2 linked regions of the Homo sapiens genome follow. The protein of the gene in region 1 interacts with the protein of each later gene in a pairwise test. Each region holds a gene or a part of one and is shown in the gene's direction. Other genes may lie near its edges.

The links.
Region 2: the proteins of RHOH (region 1) and SORL1 interact in binary tests that used the Homo sapiens proteins (3 or more experiments, as listed by UniProt).

What each region holds. Positions count from the first base shown.
Region 1 is NC_000004.12:40,192,599-40,200,045, forward strand, and holds the start of RHOH (rho-related GTP-binding protein RhoH precursor), read left to right. Parts: upstream 1-4,432; 5' UTR 4,433-4,702; intron 4,703-7,447.
Region 2 is NC_000011.10:121,630,278-121,634,265, forward strand, and holds the end of SORL1 (sortilin-related receptor preproprotein), read left to right. Parts: 3' UTR 1-3,486; downstream 3,487-3,988. UniProt on the Homo sapiens protein: Sorting receptor that directs several proteins to their correct location within the cell. Along with AP-1 complex, involved Golgi apparatus - endosome sorting.

The sequences.
Region 1 (7,447 bases):
TAAAAGAGGTCTTTGTTCACAGGAGAATATTAAAGTAAGCTGTTCTTTTGCCATATCAGAGAACATTTCTGATGAAGGTGGTTTTGAGAAAGTAAGTCTTTGCTTTTTCACCTTGACCTGAAGGGGACCGTTTGCACAGGGAATCCTGGAGGGGGCATGTTTAGGGCCAAGAAAATGGGCCTTGGGGCTCTGGCTGCTCCTCGTTGCCCACGGTGGTTCAGTTCTCTCTGTGGGGAGGCAGCGGGAGTGACAGCCAGGACAGATGAATGGGGTGAATCTTGGTTCTGGTTTTCTTAGGCCATAGGGTCTTATGCAAATCATTTAACCAGCTGAAGTCTCTGTTTCCTTGGCTGTTAAAATAGGGTTTAAAGTGTTTACCATAAAGGGCAGCTGTGAGGCTGTGAGATGGGAGAATCAATCTATTTATTGGTCAGAAAGTGGTTGTTCAGTACCTTGGATTTCTGAGTGGGCAAGGCTGGACCCTGAGCCCTGGGACCTCTGAAGTGAACACTGCAGGGCCATTTGGTGAGTGCTCTGGCCGTGTTAACACGACGTGCTATGGAGCCCTTGGGAGGGCACCTCACTGGGCTTGCAATGGAGGTGGGTGGTGGCTACAGATGGCTTCCTGGAAGATGGCTCAGAGGGGGGCTCTGATTCCCAGTTACGAACTGTGGACCCATGGTTTCCCTCCTCCTGCCACTCTGAAGTCCCCAGGATTTCTCCCAACCCCATCCCAAGGACAGACTGCACAGCGTCAGAAGGGACACGCCCTGGGGCTTGGGTGCGTGTATGTCTGTGAATGTTTGCATGTATTTTCAGCGTTTGCTTCCTCCCCTCACCACTACCCCTGTCGGTTAAAAGTCTGTTAAAAGAATGAGAGCGAGAGAGAGAGAGAGAGAGAGAGAGAGAGGAGAGGAGGGGCGGGGTGGGGGAGGAGGGGAGTGGGGAGAGAGAAAGAGAGAAACACCAAAAAGACATTTTCAAGGAAGGAAGAAAATTAGATGGCAACCCCCTGTCCCCTCCCCCTAAGAAAATCCTCTCTGAGATTAAACTGTGTGAAGATTAGAGGCGTGTAGGTCAGGAGCAGGAGGAAGCCCAACGCTGGACTGTACCAGATCATCTAAAACTGGCAATTCCAGGCACAGAAAACCAGTTCTTCAGAAGCAGAAGGGTGGTCAGCCAGGGGGTGAAAGGGACAGGGGTCTCGCAGCCAGGTATGACAATGCCCTTCCTAGTCCTTTCCAGGATGGGGTGGGACACACCCAGTCCATCCTGACTCTGGAGTACGTCTCCACTTTCGTGCAGAAAATGGTACAAGGCCTGAGGCCTGGAGCTCGTTATAAATCATGCTGGTGGCGTTTCTTGCTTTGTTTCCCAAAGGGCAGAGCCTCATCTCCCCTTCTACTTAGGAGATGGAGGGGATCTGTCCATACAGGCAGCTGTCCTTGTCTGACTCCTCTGCTTTCTGAAGGGGAGACATTGTCCCCCTTAAAGGACACTGGATCTCCTGTTGGAGGGGCAACCAATTTTGAACTCTTTGCCTCTTTAAATCTTTTAGAAACTTGGATGAGAGAAACTTTTTATCCTGAATTTTCTGAAGCATATCTGAAGTCATTTTTCTTTATTATTATTATTATTATTATTTTTTAGGCTGACGTCTCACTCTGTTGCCCAGGCTGGAGTGCAGTGGTATGATCTTGCCTCACTACAACCTCTGCCTACTGGGTTCAAGCAATTATCCTGCCTCAGCCTCTCGAGTAGCTGGGATTACAGGCATGAGCTACCGTGCCTGGCTAATTTTTGTATTTTTAGAAGAGACGGGGTTTCACCATGTTGGCCAGGCTGGTCTCGAACTCCTGACCTCAAGCGATCTGCCCTCCTCGGCCTCCCAAAGTTTTGGGATTATAGGCGTGAGCCACAGCACTCGGCCTATTGTCATTGTTATTATTAGTATTATTTTAGAGACTGGGTGTCGCTATGTTGCTCAGGCTGGTCTTGGACTCCTGGGCTCAAACAATTCGCCTGCCTCGGCCTCCCAAAGTGTGGGGATTATAGGCGTGAGCCACTGCGCCCGGCCCATGAAGTCATTTTTCATCTCTGGATAAAACTGGAACATCAAAGTGGTGCTGTGGGGTGGCACATTCTTACTAATCTCCTGCTGCACTCTCCCTGCCGCACACCCTGGAGTTGCTTTTAGTAAACTCTTCGGTGAGATGCAATCAGCATATATGGAGGAACAGCGTAAGGAACCACCTCACGGACTTGTGGCTGGCTGCGTGGAGTCTAAACATGGTGTTTCACTTCAGCCGTGTTGTCTTCTCTATGGGAATCCAGGGGGCAAAGTTTCTCTTTAATCTCAGCACTGGGGAGCCAGGAAGACCTCATGATTCTGAGCTATGTGTTTATGTTTCTCCCGCGGGCAATGAGCTTTCTGTGTGGTGATATTTCCTGCTTCATACCAGTTGCTGAAGAGCATAGAACCACGTGGCATACATTCTCTGTAATTAACCTCACCCCCAGTTTTAGTGTCATTTTTGTCTTCACTTCTCTTGGCCTCATTTTCAAATTTCTTGTTTTTAATTGTTTCATTTTGCTAAGGTGTAAGTATTTTTGCCAGATGCTCTAAATCCTTTGATGAACAAAACCAGAAGTAGATAAAGAAAATATCCACAAGCTTATGTTCTGCTCAGCTGATAACATCACCATGGTGATCTGGCTTTCCACAGAGGATTTTCCCTTTCTTTCCTTTCTTTCTTTTCCTTCCTTCCTTCCTTCCTTCCTTCCTTCCTTCCTTCCTTCCTTCCTTCCTTCCTTCCTTCCCTCCCCTTCTCTTCCTTTTCCTTCCCTTCCCTCCTTCTGTCTGTCCCTCTCTCTCTTTTTTCGAGACAGGGTCTTGCTGTGTCCCCAGGCTGGAGTGTGGTGGTGGATCACAGCTCACTGCAACCTCAACCTCATGGGTTCAAGCAATCCTCCTGCCTCGGACTCCTGAGTAGCTGGGACTACAGGTGTGGTTGCCCAGCTAATTTTTGTAGAGATGGGATCTCACTACGTTGCCCAGGCTGGTCCCGAACTCCTAGGTTCAAGCAATGCTCCCCGCTCAGCCTCCTAAAGTGCTGGCATTACAGGTGTGAGCCACCGCCACTGCACCTGGCCTCCCACAGAGGATTTTCTAGGAGATAATGTGCTCTTCAGAAGGCTCGAGGATCTCAGCTGGCAGATTGAGTTCTTACTGTGCATTAACAAATTGACACATGGGTTCATGTGGAAGTCTTGTGAACTTGGTAATTGGGTGTCTATTGATAAGAATGCTCACCTTGTACCATTGATTCCCTCTACAACTATGCTGCAAGCACAGTCATCTGCTTTCACTTCTTTGAACATGCCAACCTCTTTCCCACCTCAGGGCCTTTGCACATACTATTTGCCTCTACGTGGAATGTTCTTTCCTCCTTCTCATCCATTAGAGTGGCAGCAGTACTTTAGAATAATCAGAGGGGTTTAAAATAATATTGATGTCCGGTCCCAACCCAGCTCAATTAAACTCAAATCTTTGAGTGTGGGGCCGATGCACTGATAAAATAAAATAAAAGGCATGGAGTTGACTTTATCCTTACGGTCGGCAGGTATTTTGACCAAGCTATCACCGTGAGCAGTAGCATCAACAGTTAGTTATTCAGGGATTTGGGGCACAGGCGGTTGTGACCACATCACAAAAGTTCAATTTGTTGGGTTAGGCGTTTAGCCATAACCTAAGTAGTTGCAGATGGTCTCTACACCTGGATTGCCCATTAGGACAAAACAAGTAAACTTGTGTTTTTAGGCAAATAATGAAACTCTGAGGAGTCTGAAAAAACAACTCATCGCCAGGTAACTCCCAGCCCAGGTGCTCGTCCATACAGGGGTGAACGCACGGCAGGGGGCTGCTCGAACTCTCACTAAGCCTGCCTCTGTTCTTTGCAAAATATTTGATAGTTTTTAATGCAGCAAAGCGAAGCAGACAATCCACCTCTTGTTTTCCCCAAGCTGATGGGGGGAAAGTTCTAAGGTGTTGTTTCCTAAGCTCAAATTAACCAAGATTGGTCAGTGGCATGGACTTTTTTTTTTTTTTTTTTTGGTAATTTTACTTCCATGAGGAATCATTTGGACTCTTCAGTCTTCCTTTCTTCAGTTTTACGTAGGGCTTTGCTGGAGGAAAATGGGGCTAAGGGGGAGAGAAACATAGTCTCGGAGTAGGGTGGGGGATAAATTAAACGCAAACCCAGCGGTGCGGCAAAGGCCTTATTCTGCCTCTGATCTGGGGAAGTTTCATATTCTAATGGAGAGAAACGCACGTGCACACACACCCCCCTAAACCCACACAAATGAAACCCCCTCTGCGGAGAAGCCGGCTACAGGAAATTGACTTAGGCACAGGAACTTGCTAATCTCTTTTGTCACATTCGGATTGCTCCTGCTGCCCCACACACACTAACCCAACCATCTTGGGGTGGACTCCCTGCCAGCCCAACTGTTGTATTTTCAGTTCTTCCAGTGTGAATCAGTTAATATTCTCGGGAACGAGGGAGAGGTTGATCCTATGAGGAAATCAACCACAGTGAAAAGGCTTGGGCCGCTTTTGTTTTCACCTGCTTTTGTTGAACAAATTTGATTTCCGGAGTCAGTCATTTTACTGTCAAGACATTTCTTCGGCATTCTGCAACAGGTAAGGATTTTGCTTCCTTAAAAGTATTTCTTTGGTGTCAAAAGAAATTTTTCTAATTTTATTTAGCTTTTACTCTAGGCCAAACATCGTAATGACTCTGAGCTACCTGCTGTAAGGTGTAGAATCAATTTACAGGGGGACGGGGGTCGGGGGGGTGAGTGTTGCTTTGATATTCACTGCCCCTCACCACAGTCCTAACAAGATTTTTGAAACATGAAAAGTTACAATAGTTGGCTTTTTGGTTTTCCAGATATTCTAGAGAATGCATATGCTTGTGACTGTGGCTGAGCTCAACTGTATGGGTAGTTTAAATACTACCCAAGGTTTGATGAAGTAAATCTAAAGATGCTCTAAGTTGTGCAAATATGAATTTTAAAGTTGTCTAGTTCAGAAAAGAAACAGAACCGAAGTCTAAATGATGTAGATTTCAATCTGGAATTTCTAGCTTGTGTTTTTCACCTATTGCCAATGTTAATGACCATTTCCCAAAAGTGCTCTATGATGTATAACATGTATTTTTTAATTAAATTTAATCTTTCTTCTGAGGTGGTTTGATTTGGAGATATGCTACGAGGTACCAGTCAGTAGCCTGAGTTGTAACTAAACAAAGTTTGGGAAATCACCGGTTTTAGGTGCTTTACTAAATGAAAGTTGCCATTGACGTATTCAAGCAGGCAACAAGTAGTTGGTGTCCCCTTATTGGTTCTAAGCTGGTGCCGTGGAGGATATAAGAGAAATATTTTAAAAATCTCTACTTTGAAGGACCCTATAATCTGGTAGTTGTGATAAGAAGTAAAATTTAGGAAGCAATGCAAGATGAGAATTCAGTGATGAGTGGGGCAGCACAGGCTTGAAGAGTTCTGTGAATTCCATGGAGGGGGCCTGGGGGCAAACTGGAGTTGTCAGGAAGATCTGGGCTTTGGAAGAATGCGAAGTGTCGGTAGAAGGAGAAGGGGCAGGTGATTTCAGACTGGGAGGACCTTGTGGGCAAAGGCACAAAGGCGAGACTGACCTGGAGATGATAAGGCCAGTTGAAGAGACACTGGAGAAGAGAAGACAGTTTGTTTTACACATTGCAGGAAATCAGATTAGACAGTTAGGGTGTGGACACAAAAGCGAGGACCTTGCAGGCACTGGGGAGAAGTGACCCCATTCAATAGTCCTTGGTCTCCTTCTGCCCTGCGGCTGCGCTTCCTCGGCTCTCACGGCACCAGCAGAATTCCATGTGAGAGGGAGCTTGTCGAGCGTGGCCTCTTCCCACTTGGGGCTGCTTTCTGCATCCCTGTGCCTGGCTGTGGGCCTCCATTTGCCCTCTACTGTCTTCCCTTAGGACATCATTTATGCAGAGAAAGGTTCGTGTGGCTCGGGGTACCAGTAAGACCTCCACCTCTGGTTTCTTCATTTTAAGGAGGCCCTTCAATTATCCAGGAATTAAAGTGGCCTTCCTCTTGGGAGAACGAGTTGGTTGATGAATGATAAGCAAGTCTCTATTCCTCAAAAGCCAGTCCCCAAATTCCATGAAATATGTGCTACTTTCTTTGCATGTCTAAATGAGATGGCACGGGTATGCTTCTGTTCTTTTTCTGGACGTTGTTTAGAGAGTCAGTAGATCATAATAATTCAGACACTTTTTTTCTGGACCATAAAATATCTGAACCCATATAATAACAAACATACAGCACGGTGAATAAGAACCCAACTTTTGAGCCAGATCACTTTGCATGGAATCCCCATTCTATCATTCTATCATTTCTGGGCTGTGGGAACCTCAGACAAGTTACTTAACTTCTTCAATGCTCAGATTAAAAAAAAAATTCACAAAATATCTCTAATAACAGTAATAATAACTGAAAATACCTACCTCAGAGGGTTGTCGTAGAGATCAAATGAGATAAAAATATGTAAAGCATGTAGCCTAGTGCCTGACTGAAAAAAAAATCTCTCAATAGATGCAACTCTTATGATTCTTATTAAGGACTTGGCTATTGCCACAAATGAAGGTGTTATGAGCCCTGGCTTAAGAGCAAGAAGCCTGCAAAGCTAACTCTCCTAATCCCAACATTCCTTTCCAGGGAAAGTAGGGTGACAGGTGGAGGCTGGGAATTAACGTTTTTTGAGCACCAAATATGGACAAGGCACAGGGGTTGGGTGTTTTTCTAGTGAGAATACATATGAAAGAAGGAAAACAAACTTGGAAACCGCTATTTTAAGCCATTTGGTAACAGTTTCTCTAGCTTATGAGATGAGAGAGGTCCTCTCAGTATCCGCTGCATTACTTGTGGGCCTCCTTGGTTGACGTCGCTCTCTGAACGCTTGGGGTGGAATTCTAGAGGTGCTTTTCATTAGAGGCAGAGAGCATGACCTTTCTTCCTTGCCCAGTTTAAATTAAATTATTTTATCTTACAATGTGTTAATTTTAGTGCTAGCAAGGCACAGCTAAAATTCCATTTCTACTTAGGAGTGGGGATCATTGTGGCAGTGAGTGCTTATTTGGGTTTGGGATGCTTGGATCTGGGTGAAAGCCAGGATTAAAAAGCATCCTCCTTCCCCATTCCACTCTCTAGGTTATAAATATTTTTTTGGATTAAAAGCCTCCTTTAAAAAAATGCAAATCCACCTGGCATGTTAATTGTGCAGGGGATTCCTAATTATGTGTGCAGATGACGTGAGTCACACGGTGATAGTGTTCCTTCTAGAGTCCCACTGGTGTCCTAAGGGAGGAGACTCTGGAGCTTTGTGTATGAA
Region 2 (3,988 bases), on another chromosome or scaffold:
AAGCCCACAGCTTCCTCTCTTATATTAATTGATGGAATTTTACTGTATGTGCCTCTGTACAAGATGTAGCTTTGAGAGCTACAAAATGATAACACTGCTTTATTACACACTGGTTTCATTGTCATTGCAAAAACTTACCCTGGTTGTGGGGGAGAGTTCTAGATCTGTGCCATGATCCATACACTGGCTAATAGAGTACATAATTTTTCCATTTTCCATTTTTTGTTTTTACTTACTACTGAAGGATCTCAGATGTAAAATTATGTATTTGGTTTGAGATGGCCACTTATTGTCCTTAAAAATCCATACTGATATATGCAGTCATTTTGAATTGGACAGTGCCTTCTCTTTTTTTTTCTCCTCTTCTTCCATCTCCCTCACCCATGCCCCCACCCAATCTAAAGAGACAGTGCTGTACATTCTCATAGAGATAGAGAAGATCTAAAAAGTTGAGACTACTCAATCCAGTTAACAACAGCAGGAGCACTAGAGTTTGTTCATTTATTCTCTCTGTAAAACAAGCTGTGCTTTTTTTCTTCTGCCTTTAAAATGCCACCCGTGTATTCAAACCATGGCCACTTGATACTTATGTAGAATCCATCGTGGGCTGATGCAAGCCCTTTATTTAGGCTTAGTGTTGTGGGCACCAATGTCGAGCATCGTTGTGACTTGTGCTGTATGATTCTCACTGAAGAATTTCCTTTCAGCCAAGAAGCAGTGAGGTCTGGGAATATTCCAAAGTCATGTCTCTGAATATGTGTCCTTGACGTGCAAGCTTTGTAAAACCCCATCCCCGCTTAGGTGCGAGGCATCACCTTCTCACAAGTGTTTAGTTTCTTTTAACCACAAGTATCATTCTTGGGTGATAATATAGTTTCATTCTACTTAGGGATTGTTTAGAAAACAAAGAAAGAGCCAATTAAATTTTTTAGTTTTTGAAATTTTTATTTATATGTATACTTAGATGAGTATTTTAAGCTGTCGACCTTTAGTTTGCCATACGGGTAGGACTGTATTTCATGTTAACAACTGGTGGTAATGATAAGCCTTCTTCTAGCGTATTTTCTCTTCTTTCCTGTCACTTTCCTAAGTTTTTTTTTTTAAAGACTGGAATTTTTTTTGGCTTTATCTTGTCTTACCGTAGAGATTTGTTCAAAACTCTAAGCCCTACCACCTCCCCTTTAATAAGCTCTTTAAATAGTTGAATCATTAACAACCTGGTGGGAGGCAAGTCATTTAATTGAACCACTAGGAAGTGTATTTTCTTTTCTTTTTCTGCCAACTTTTTGGTGGCATTTGTAAAAGCTGATATAAAAGGCTCTGAGATGTTATTTTCAGTTATTCCATAGGCAAGCCTTTTTACAGAGCATATGTCTCCAGTTGGCAGCTTGAGATATTTCCGAGCATCCGGTTCTAGCTACCAGTGCCTCCCAATGCTTAGTGCACAGTACTGTAGACTGGCCATCACCCCTCTCCTTGGAAAATGCCACTGTGCTGTTTGAAAAAAAGCAGCCTTTTAGGGCTAGAGTATTTTATATAAACAGAAGAGCTAAGTTCCTGAAGACTAAGCTAGATAGCTGCAGCTATATGTAAATTGTATATTTTTATGAACTTTTGAAGCACACACTCCTGTTTCCCTCTGTGTAGCTTTGTGGGGATTTCATGTATATATGCTGTCTGAAAGAATCCAGAGGTTGGAGTGCCAATAGAAAATGAAAACAAATGCCTTGTACTACAGGCAGCCTCTGAAGGTGACCACATAACTGTCTTCACTGTGACCAATCGGAGTCCCTGCTTGCTTGTGAAGAAGGGGCTTTTGTACCTTGTTGGAGATGCCACCTCAGAAGTTCACACTGTGCAGGAAAAAGGTTTTATTCTCTCCTGGCATACATTAGAATGTCAGATGCTTGCATCCATGTGGACCACGATGGGCCTCTAAAAATTGGTGGGCAGGGGGTTTGCTTATGAGTTTTCTCTGGAAACCGATTTTACTCCTGGATGTATTGAATGCCCCTTGAGCTTTATGAGATACGAGTCCACATGGATAAAATGTTAGAGAGTGGAGTTCTACAGAGGATTCCAGGAAGAGGCCATGTCTGTGCAGTCCTAGTTCCAGACAGGTGAGAAGCTCCAGGAACTACTGGCTACCTTGACAAGCTGGGTAAATAGTTATCATTCTGGGTAACTGGTTGAAACTCTGACTTTTGGACAAGTAATTCCTGGGGTTCTGTCTTTGGTAGCATCACCAGGGATATTTGGGTGGGACAGACAGAAGACACACAGCTGCCTGTTCTCTCCTGCCCATCATGTTTGGCCCACTAGATGAAGCTGTACTCAGCAATTTAGGGAATGTAACCCTTCTCAGAACTGGCCATTTTCAGGGGAAGCTTGGGAGAGCAATAGTATGGTGAGCCCCTTAGAGATGAGCGCCTACTCCTTCTTGGCGAATGCTGCCTTCAGATGCTTACCAAGTGGTCACTGCATCTAGTAAGATTATATTTCCAGTACACTTCCTTAGGGCAGAAACACCATCCTATCAGGTTTGGTCAGTCCCTTCTTCATGAAGGGAGTCATGGGGAATTCCTGAAAATTTTCTTCCTTCTGCAGACAGTTGGATGAGTCCCTTAGAGAAGGCATCCAGAGACATAACTAAACTGAATATCATCCCATATTGATTTTAGGAATTGACTCTAAAACTCTGTGCAGAATCTTGTGTTGGGATTGTATCTTGACATTCCTGTTGTGTTATTTTTCTTAACTGGAGTGTGTGCTGCCTTTCAGGTACAATTTTTGTGTAATAAAAGCCAGTGCATTAAGTTTATATAGACTACTTTCTATGCAAGACTGAGATATGGAATAGATAGGAAGAGATATGTACTGCTGGGTACATGGACAGTAAGTGTGTTTTCAGATGGAGTACCAGCACCGAAAATGGGTTGAGGGAGGATGGGTTGTATGTATGTTTCTGCCCACTAATTTTGAGCAGCCATATTATGAATTAAATCGTCACAGCCAAGTAATAACCCAAGAATGGTATGAGTTTCATGTGTAATAGCTCAAATGGAATAAGCATGAATGCTGGAGTGGACCATTATCCTCAAATATTCTATGTCACTTCTCATTTAAAGACTCTTGTTATGAACTATTAGAAACTTTAGGCAAAATCAAAAGTATTTGCGGCAAAATAAAGGCCTATTCTACTCTTATTTAAAGTGAAACACTGTATACTTGTTTCTCTCCAAAGCGAAATTAAGTATTTATAATTTCAATTGCCTCGATAAGTTTCCAAGTCACTGAAATCTGCTGAAGGTTTTACTGTATTGTTGCACAACTTTAAGATAATTTTTGTCTCAATGTCAACTTTTTTCACTGAATAAAAATTTAACTGGGTCAAGAAAACACCTCTTTGAAAATCCACTGTCTCTGTGTGTCTCGAGCTGTTCTTTAGAGCGCAATAAAGATGGCTGACGCAGTCTCCAAACCCCATTTGATTGGTCTGTTTTAAACGGATGTTTATTTCATAGATGAGAGAACACCAAGGCCTGGAATAATTTTGTTATTAACAAGCTGGTCTCAGATGGTGGATCCTTGAAGAACACGATGTCTTTGTGTTGGTTGAGGAGGGGGAAGATGTGCTGGCTGTTTTGAAGTAAACAGAATTATTCCGTAGGGACAATGACTAAAGTGGCTCCCTTAAATTTGTAACTACATTTGCTAAGAGACAGTTTGCTAAGAAGGCAATTTTCAAATCTAAGAGACGGAAGCACAGCAGTATAGATGAGCTGTGTGTCTAAGAGCACTTCTATGGGTTTCCATAGACAGTCTTGTGAGGAGTGCTGCGTGTACCTATTATGGGCAGCTGAATGGCCATGGGCCTGTAAGTCAGGATTGGAGGCTGTGGAACTGGGTGGGGGAGGGAGGCAGGTTTTTAAGAATTTAACAGGTCTTCTGGTATGCTGCTTTTGTTTAGACACTGAGCCAGAGCCAA